Linked DNA regions of Homo sapiens: all the other regions are linked to region 1. The links come from fine-mapping of genetic effects on gene expression. A gene starts in region 1. Each other region holds a variant in brackets. All regions are shown on one strand. Distances are from middle to middle.

Region 1 (2,722 bases):
ACATGGTAGATGATCAGCGGGGCCACCAGGAAGATGCTGTTGCCACCCACGCCGTTCTCCATGGGGATGTCCACCTGGTGGAGGGGCACCACCTCGCCCTCGGGGCTGGTGGTCTTGCGTACCACCTGCATGTGGATGGTGGCGCTGATGATCATGCTCTTGCGGAGGTCACCCACACGTAGCATGAAGCAGAGGCGGCCGTGGCGCAGGGCGATCACCGCATGCTTGCTGAAGATGAGGGTCTCAGCCCTGCGGTGGGCTTGGGCAGTCTTCATGAAGATGCAGCCAAGCATGATGGCGTTGATCATGAGCCCCACGATGTTCTGCACGATGAGGATCAGGATGGCCAGTGGGCACTCCTCAGTCACCATGCGCCCCCCAAAGCCAATAGTCACTTGGACCTCAATGGAGAAAAGGAAGGCAGACGAGAAGGAGTGGATGCTGGTGACACAGGGCTCAGCAGTGCCCTCGCTGGGGGCCAGGTCACCGTGGGCGAAGGCGATGAGCCACCAGGCCATGGCGAAGAGCAGCCAGCTGCACAGGAAGGACATGGTGAAGATGAGCAATGTGTGTGGCCACTTGAGGTCCACCAGCGTGGTGAACACGTCCTGCAGGAAGCGGCCCTGCTCCCGGATGTTCTTGTGGGCCACGTTGCAGTTGCCTTTCTTGGACACAAAGCGGGCCCTCCGCTGGCGGGCACGGTACCTGGGCTTGGCAGGGTCCTCTGCCAGGCGTGTCAGCACGTATTCCTCGGGGATGATGCCCTTGCGGGACAGCATGGCTCCGGTGACCCCCAGGGAGGGGCTTCCCCCATCGGAGGCACCCCTCGGACGTGGCCTAGGGCCTCACTGCAGAGTCCTCTCGGTGGGCACCTTCTCACCCTGGGGCTGCACTCAGCCTGTGCTGGCCTCACTTCTGAGATAACTCCCCACCAGACTCTTCCTTACCTCCACCTGGGTCCCACTTCACTTCTTAATACCAGCCTCAGGCCGGGCGCGGTGGCTCACGCCTGTAATCCCAGTACGTTGGGAGGCTGAGGAGGGCAGATCACTAGGTCAGGAGTTCGAGACCAGCCTGACCAACATGGTGAAACCCCATCTCTACTAAAAATACAAAAGTTAGCCGGGCATGGTGGTGCGCACCTGTAATCCCAGCTACTCAGGAAGCTGAGGCAGGAGAATCGCTTGAACCCGAGAGGCGGAGGTTGCAGTGAGCCAAGATCACGCCACTGCACTCCAGCCTGGGCGACAGAGCGAGACTCCGTCTCAAAAACAAAAAACAAAACAAAAAAAACAGCCTCACCCTTGAGCCCACCTGCCTGGCGCCTAGGGAGCCCCCAACCCTGCCGGCTCTCCACCTGGCCCTGCGTCCTCCCCCAGCTTCCCCCACCAGCTGACCACCCCTGGGCCTCCCGCTAAGAGCCCTTCTCCCCGCCCAGCCTGCCTTCCCAGCCCAGCTCAGAACTTAACACCTCCGGATCTCTCCCACTAACCGGACCTCACCCCCACCTCCGGGTCTCCCGCCTCACCTGTCTGGCCTTCGGGCTCCCAGGCTCCAGCTCAGGTCCTGGCCACCCCCGCCCCGTCTCTCCTCCAGGTGCGCCCCCTATGTCCTACTCCACCCCTCCCGGAGCGCCCCCGCCGCTTTCCGGATCCCCCTCCAGCTCTCGTCCTCTCTGTCTCCTTGGGATCCTGCGTTCTCTGGAGTCACCACCCCACCCGGCTCAACCGCGGCTCCCCGGACCTGCGCGCGACCCGGCGGGGCTGACTCCGAGTCGCGGCCTCCCGGTCCCTGCCGCCCGCCCGCGCCGCGGCTCCCGCTCCGCGCCGGGTCCCGGCCCCGCCCGCCGCCGCCGCTGCACCTGCTCCTGCTCCTCACGCCACGGCCGTCGCCTCCCCGCCCCCTCCCGCCGCCCGGGCGCTCGCGGCTGGCCGTCCTCCCGTCTGTCTGTCCGTCCGTGGGTCCGCGGAGACCGACCTGGGCTAGGCAGGGGTCTAGGACGGCGGGAGGGGGGCGCACGAGGAGAGGAACGGGGCCGGGGACCGCCAGGGGGAGCCCGACCTGCACCGGAGCGCAGGGGGCGGGGCCGGAGCAAGCCCCCGCCCCTCCCGCGCCCCTCCCCGCCCCCGCCCTCCACCTCCCCTCCCGGGACTCACAACCCGGCCTTTGGAGTTTTTCTGATCCGCGGAACCCAGAGGTTCCTCCTGCCCACGCTCTACGAAAGTGGGGGGCTGGGAGGGATCTGTGACCCGCCCTCCCAGTCTGGGGCCGCCGCCCTGTCGCCCTGGCTCCCCTCCCCCAATATCCCCATCCGTATTTGGGTCAGTAATCCGCCTCTCGGCCGCGCCAGGTTTGCAGGTTCCCCGGGAAAGGAGGCGCTGAGAGGCGGCGCCACCAATCCCAGGGCTGGCGGAAATTAGGCGGTCCGAGGACTTCTCAACCTGCAGCTGCTTCTCTTTGGGGGATGCTCTTAATCTTAGTCTTGAATCCTTTGACAATCTGATGGAAGCTCAGACTCCCTCTCATTAAAAAAAAAAAAAAAAAAAAAAAAAAAAAAGGCCTCGGCAGGAAAGGAGCACAGTTTAACACCTGCTACTGCTGTGGGGCAGCCTGGGCGGCTCCATCTTCTCAGCCATTCCGGCCCTACTTTAAAGAAGGTTTGAGCCGAGGCCACTTGCTTTACACTTTCTCACACCTGTCACCTGACTTCTTCCACGTTAGG
Region 2 (2,726 bases), 140 kb after region 1:
TGATGAATGGAGCAGTTGGAAAGCTCTGGTGGAGCTCTGGGAGGGCTTAAAGCTGACCCTGGCACTCCCCTACTTCATAACTATCTTATCAACTATCAAATATTATACCATTACATGTTCATTTCTTTGGCTAAATTTGATGACATTTGCTTTAAAAATCACAGTTTGCAGATGCGGGAACCTTTGAGCTTCTCATTTAGCACAGGCTGTGTTGAATCGTCATAACAGAATAGCTAACATTCACTGATCACTTACAATGTGCTTGGCACAGCTCTAGTATACATATTAATTACTTTAACCCACACAACAACCTTGGAAGAAAGCCTGTATTATCCCCATCTTACAGGTAAGCAAACAGACATGAAGTAACTTGTCCAAAGAAGAGGTTAAGGGTTCCTGCTTTGGGATTGGACCACCTAGGTTTGAATCCCAGCCCTACCATATGAGGTACACGATTTTGGAAAAATCATATACTTTCTCTGGGTCTCAGTTTCCTCATATGTAAAGTGGGGATAATGGTGGTACTTAACCCTCAGCATTCTTGTGAAGTGTAAAGGGCATGGAACAATGTCTGATGCAAGTGGACACTGAAGGTCCGCTCTTTGATTACCATTACGACATTCCCAAGCTCGTGACCAACAACTATCAGAGCTGGGGAAGGCTGCAGAAGGGTCAAACATCCCCAGTCTGTGAAGCCTTCTCTGCAGGGTGGGTAGGGCTCCTACTCCCTCAGTGTCCACTGAAAGAGGGCCATGTGGAAAGGCACCTGCCCCTGTCACCGCGGGATCACAGTCTGACCCAATTTCCAGTGGGCCCCCACTGGGGCCGGCCCAGCGTCACTCACCTCCAATCCCACCTCAGCAGACAGGGAGCCAGGTTTCACATGGCTGATAAAGATGCCAGGCTTCTGGATGGGGCCGCTGGAAATGCTGCGGGAGGTGGGAAATGTGTGCTCGGGATTCAGGTAACCCATGTCCAGTGCTCAGGATACAGGTCACTCATGAGCTGAGGACTGAAGGCCCTTGACTGCCTACCTCTTCAGCCTCTGTGTCCCTCTCCAGCCTGATTTCTACTGCTACCCTGGGCAACAGCCACAGAAAAATCCTTGTAATTCTTCCTACCCAACCTCTCACCTAATATACCTCATATGCTGTTTCTTCTTTCTTTCTAGCACTTTCCTGTCCATCCATTAAGACTCAAATGCTATCCCTTCTATAAGGTTTT[T/C]ACCAGATCCTCTTATTTTTTTAAATTTATTTTTTAGAGACAGGGTCTTGCTCTGTCACCCAGGTTGGAGTGCAGTGGTGTGATCATAGCTCTCTGCAACCTCCAACTCCTGGGATCAAGCAATCTTCCCACCTCAGCCTAGCTGCGACTACAGGTGTGCACCACCATGCCTGGCTCAGATCCCTTATTCTATCCCAAGACTAAACTAGCCGCTCTGTTCTCAGTGCTCCTATGACATTTACGGCAAGGATGGTACATGTACTGTTAGTATTCCTTCCTAGATTGGTGGCAGAAGTCACTCATTGATCACAGCACTCTTTCCCACAATCCTGGATACAGCTTTAGAATGCTTTTCAAAGCAGCACTCCAGGGAGCTGCTACTCATTGACTAGAGATGGCACCTATTTGCCATCCTGGACGCAGAATGTAGTCCCGTTCGAGTCCCTATCACCCTATATTATAACTATTTACTTGGTTGGCTTCTAGATTAGGCTGTTGTCTCCCAGAAAGGTGGGACTTTTTATCACTTGTGCTTGGCACAAAACATTGAATAAATGTGAATGAAAGGAAAGAACAGGGATAACTTAAATAATAATAGCTAATATTTACCAACTGCTTACTATTTAGCAGGTACTAAGTTTGGCACTTTACTTTCTCCACAACCACCCTGTGATGTGGGAATTATTATCGCCCATTTATAGAGGGAGAAACTGAGGCTCAAAGTGGTTAAGTAACTGGCCCAAGGTTCCAGAGCTCTTAAGTGGGAAAGCAGGGCTGGAACTGGGATCTGAGTAACGGTGGCACCTGCATGCTTAAGCCCCGTGTGGCCCAGTGTCTGTTCGGAATTCCCTGTCTGCCTCTTAAGGAAGCCAACAAGTTAATAAGTGACAAGAGAGCTGTGACAGAGATGACCAGCCAAACAGGCTCCTTTTGCAGTGACTCAAGGGCCCACAAGGTAACACTGTTCTGCCTCTGGGCCTCAATTTCCTCATCTGTAAATTGGGCTCTGTTAGAGATGACCCTCTGGCCCTAAAGGCCTGTCATGAAGTTCAGAGGGGAAATCAGGCACCAAGAAGTGTCAACACCAAGGCTGGGTGCGGTGCTTCATGCCTCTAATCCCAGGGCTTTGGGAGGCTGAGGTGGGAGGATCACTTGAGCCCAGGAGTTTGAGACCAGCCTGGGCAACATAACAAAACTCCATCTCTACAAAAAAATTAAAAGTTAGCTGGGTATGGCAGTGTGTTCCTGTAGATCCAGCTACTCAGGAGGCTGAGGTGGGAGGATTGCTTGAGCTGGGGAGGTTGAGGCTACAGTGAGCTATGATCATGCCACTGCACTCCAGCCTGGGCAACAGAGTCAGACCCTGTATCTAACAAAAAAAGTATCATCACCCATGGACAGTCACACCCCTGGTGGGCAAGGTTTCCTCGGAAGTGGCAGTGAGGAAGGGGAGGGCAATAGGGGCCTGCTGGGGTGCACTGGCCACGAATGACCCCAGGGCA
Region 3 (2,756 bases), 40 kb after region 1:
CCCTGTTTTCTTTCTTCCTACCTAGAATCCCCAGCAAGTCCTCTCCCTCTTTAATCCTTTCCTTCTGGAAATCAACATCCTCCTCTGGCTCCCCAGGTCCTTCCCCCTCTCTGATTTCCTGCCCCGCCACCCTTCCTAAGCACTCGCTTCTCCTTTCCCATGCTCCTAGTATGAGCCCAGGCTCCTTGTGGTCCCAAGAAACACCATCCTGGGTCCCACCTCCAACCCACCTCCATACTTTGCTCATGGCTGCCTCTGCCAGAAAATCCTCCTGCCTCATGGCCTCAGGGCCTTTGTCCATTCTCAGAAACCCCATCACTTCCACTTGCGTTCCTTGGCTACCCACTTCTGATCTTTTTGTGCATTACCTATACTGTCTGCAATGGATGGTTTGACATTAAGGCTGGCAATTTTACCCTGTCCTTAGTGCTTCACTCCCACCCAGCACACGGAAGCCTCTAGAATGTAGCCTTCCCCTTCTATAATATACCCAGGGCATACACCAAGAATGAGCAGAGAGTAGGTGCTCAATAAATGCAGCTTTGTCTTTTTATCTCTATGTTATTCAGTGGGACATGGGGAGGGGCATGCTGGAGGGGTGGACTGGGCCATACCTCGGGGGATACGAATGGTGATGTTGGACAGTGTGGGGATTCCATCTGGGGTCCACGTGAAGTAGCCTCCCATGATCTTCATTAGGCGTGTCCCACCGCCCAGGAGAGAACAGAAAGGCAGCCAGTTCCCAGTGAATAGTCTCTGGCTTCCCCTCCTCCATGAAAGCCAAAAGACACTGATTCCAGCCCCTGGATCACTTCCAGAGCAGGGGAGTGGGAGACTGGCCTTCTCATGCTGACCCTTGCCTAAGGCTGGGGGTCCCCCCACTTGGTGGTCCCTGGTTTCTGGACTCCTATGGACCGTACAGGCAGGCAGGGTGACCTCTGCAGAGGACTAAGCATGCAGCTTTCTGGCTTTCCAGGTGCTGAGCTCCCTCTGGGAGTTGGTGCTGGGTGGCCAGGCATGGGGCAGCAGGACTCACCTGGACACAGCAGTTGTCAGCATCGCCATCTGCACTGGGGACCAGGCTCTGCAGTGGGCCGGTGAGGCCCCGACAATCCTCCCGGGCTGGACG[C/T]TTGCGGTTCACAACCCTGAGGGGCTGGGGGTGGTTTGGAGGTGAGGACCCACTGGGCTGGGAGCTGTGTAGGGAAGGGAGCCCCTCTTCCTGGGAAAAAAGGCAGAAGTCCGACACAGCAGGCCCAAGTTTTGGGCCTTAGAGGACCATGCTGGGAGTAGCAAGGGGAGGCCGGGCACTCACCACCGCCTGGTACTTGCTGGCTGGGCCCTGAGGTGTGGGCTCATGGGGGGCACACTGCTCCTCACGGATCTCTGCACTGGACAGGAACTCGCTTAGCTTTTGCACGCTGCTCGGGAAGCACAGAGACACCCCTCACCCCTGCCAGGGGCAGAGGGGAGGGGAGAGGGCGCAGCCTGATAGAGAGCTCTGAGCAGGATCTCAGGCCTGAAGTATAGTCCCACAAAGCCCACACTGAAGGGGGCAGACCAGTGGGCATGGGGGCAGGTAATTGGTGTTACCAGGGTTTGCTAGGGTTGACCAGTCAGCTGGAATAGGCTGGGGTCTGGATTGGAGGTGAGATTGGTTAGTTTTAGGGTTAATGTTGAAGTTAGTTAGTCTGGGTTATTAGACTGAAGGATGGTTGGTGTTGGATTGGTCAGGGTTAAGGTTAGTTAGGACTAGGATTGGTAAAGAATCAATAGCTAGTATTTTGTGAGCATACACTAAATGCCAGACACTGTGTTAACTGTTTTGTAGCATTATGTAATCGGATCCCCATAACAGCCTGCTGGAGGAGGTGTCATTACTCACGGGGGAGGCGGCTATTCCTACCCTCTCCCCTGTCCAGATTTCCCTGTGGACCTGAGGAAGCACTGGAAGCTTCACTCTTCTAGTTCATTCTCTCCCATCCTGGAGGTGTGAAAGCTTTCTGGGAAGCTCAGGATTGTTTGTATTCCCCTTTCTTCTCTTTTGCTAAATGTCCAACAGGCCTGGGGCAGACAAGCCATCCCACCCTCAAGGCAAGGTTATTCTGGGGTGTAAGTGAGCTGTGGCCTGGAGTCTCCCTTTCTGTGCGCCACCCCTAGATGGGAGGGGCAGACCACCAGGCTCTGCCTTCATGCCCTGTCCAGCCTCCCTCCCCCACAGGCGGTGACTGGGAAGAGTGGAGCTGGCCCTCATCTCTTGGGGTGAAGCTTCAGGTAGTGTCCTGCGCCCACCTTCAGCCAGAGCCTGAGCTGCCTCACTGAAAAGGCCTCTGCTACTCTGGTGTTCCATTCCTGGAAACAGTGGGATCCAGAGTGTTTGAAAATATGAACGCTTTGGGATCAGTGCAACAGTTTTCAGGCAGGTGCAGCGTTCTTAAATCTGTGGTTTCTACACAGAATCATAGGGCTGGAGAGTGGGTGGTGGGAGGAGGGGTGATCTTCAGACCCCACAACACCCTGGTCAAGAAACTGAGTCAGCACAGCCGACTGTGGAAATGGGAGCTAATCCCTGTTTAACCAGCTACTGCCTGGTCAGATACTCCTTAGAGCATAATTTTGCTGAGTTATGCCCCATTCCATCTTTGAACCCATGCTAGAGTCTCCCCCTGCAAGCTACCCTCTCTATCAGCTACTTCATTCCAACAGCTACTCCTTCCTTCCAGCTTCCCAGTACCTGCCAGGGTCCCATGAGACAGGGG

Which allele goes with the higher level. Alleles are on the strand shown, and positions count from the first base shown. SD is a standard deviation of normalised expression in the study named. Not every link is listed here.
For the expression in putamen of the gene that starts at base 1,347 in region 1, allele T in region 3 goes with a higher level than allele C (moderate effect, 0.69 SD a copy in Braineac2).

Evidence for each region. PIP is the estimated chance that this variant, and not a neighbour inherited with it, causes the effect. A credible set is the group of variants that fine-mapping cannot tell apart.
Region 2: its variant is the best candidate, but not a certain one, in a credible set for the expression of KCNJ11 in thyroid (GTEx, PIP 0.53).
Region 3: its variant is the best candidate, but not a certain one, in a credible set for the expression of KCNJ11 in putamen (Braineac2, PIP 0.50).

What each region holds. Positions count from the first base shown.
Region 1 is chr11:17,387,313-17,390,034 of GRCh38, forward strand. It overlaps KCNJ11 (potassium inwardly rectifying channel subfamily J member 11), which reads right to left and starts at 1,347. Exons shown (of 1, transcript NM_000525.4): 1 at 1-1,347. The coding sequence starts at 779. RefSeq lists an enhancer at 1-529 and silencers at 1,738-2,247, 2,328-2,427.
Region 2 is chr11:17,523,607-17,526,332 of GRCh38, forward strand. It overlaps USH1C (USH1 protein network component harmonin), which reads right to left. Exons shown (of 27, transcript NM_153676.4): 9 at 845-929. Among named protein-coding and RNA genes, the nearest start is that of USH1C, 19 kb to the right of the region's middle. The variant T/C (reference allele first, on the strand shown) is at 1,225.
Region 3 is chr11:17,427,253-17,430,008 of GRCh38, forward strand. It overlaps ABCC8 (ATP binding cassette subfamily C member 8), which reads right to left. Exons shown (of 39, transcript NM_000352.6): 13 at 1,313-1,418; 14 at 1,037-1,153; 15 at 615-690. Among named protein-coding and RNA genes, the nearest start is that of KCNJ11, 40 kb to the left of the region's middle. The variant C/T (reference allele first, on the strand shown) is at 1,130.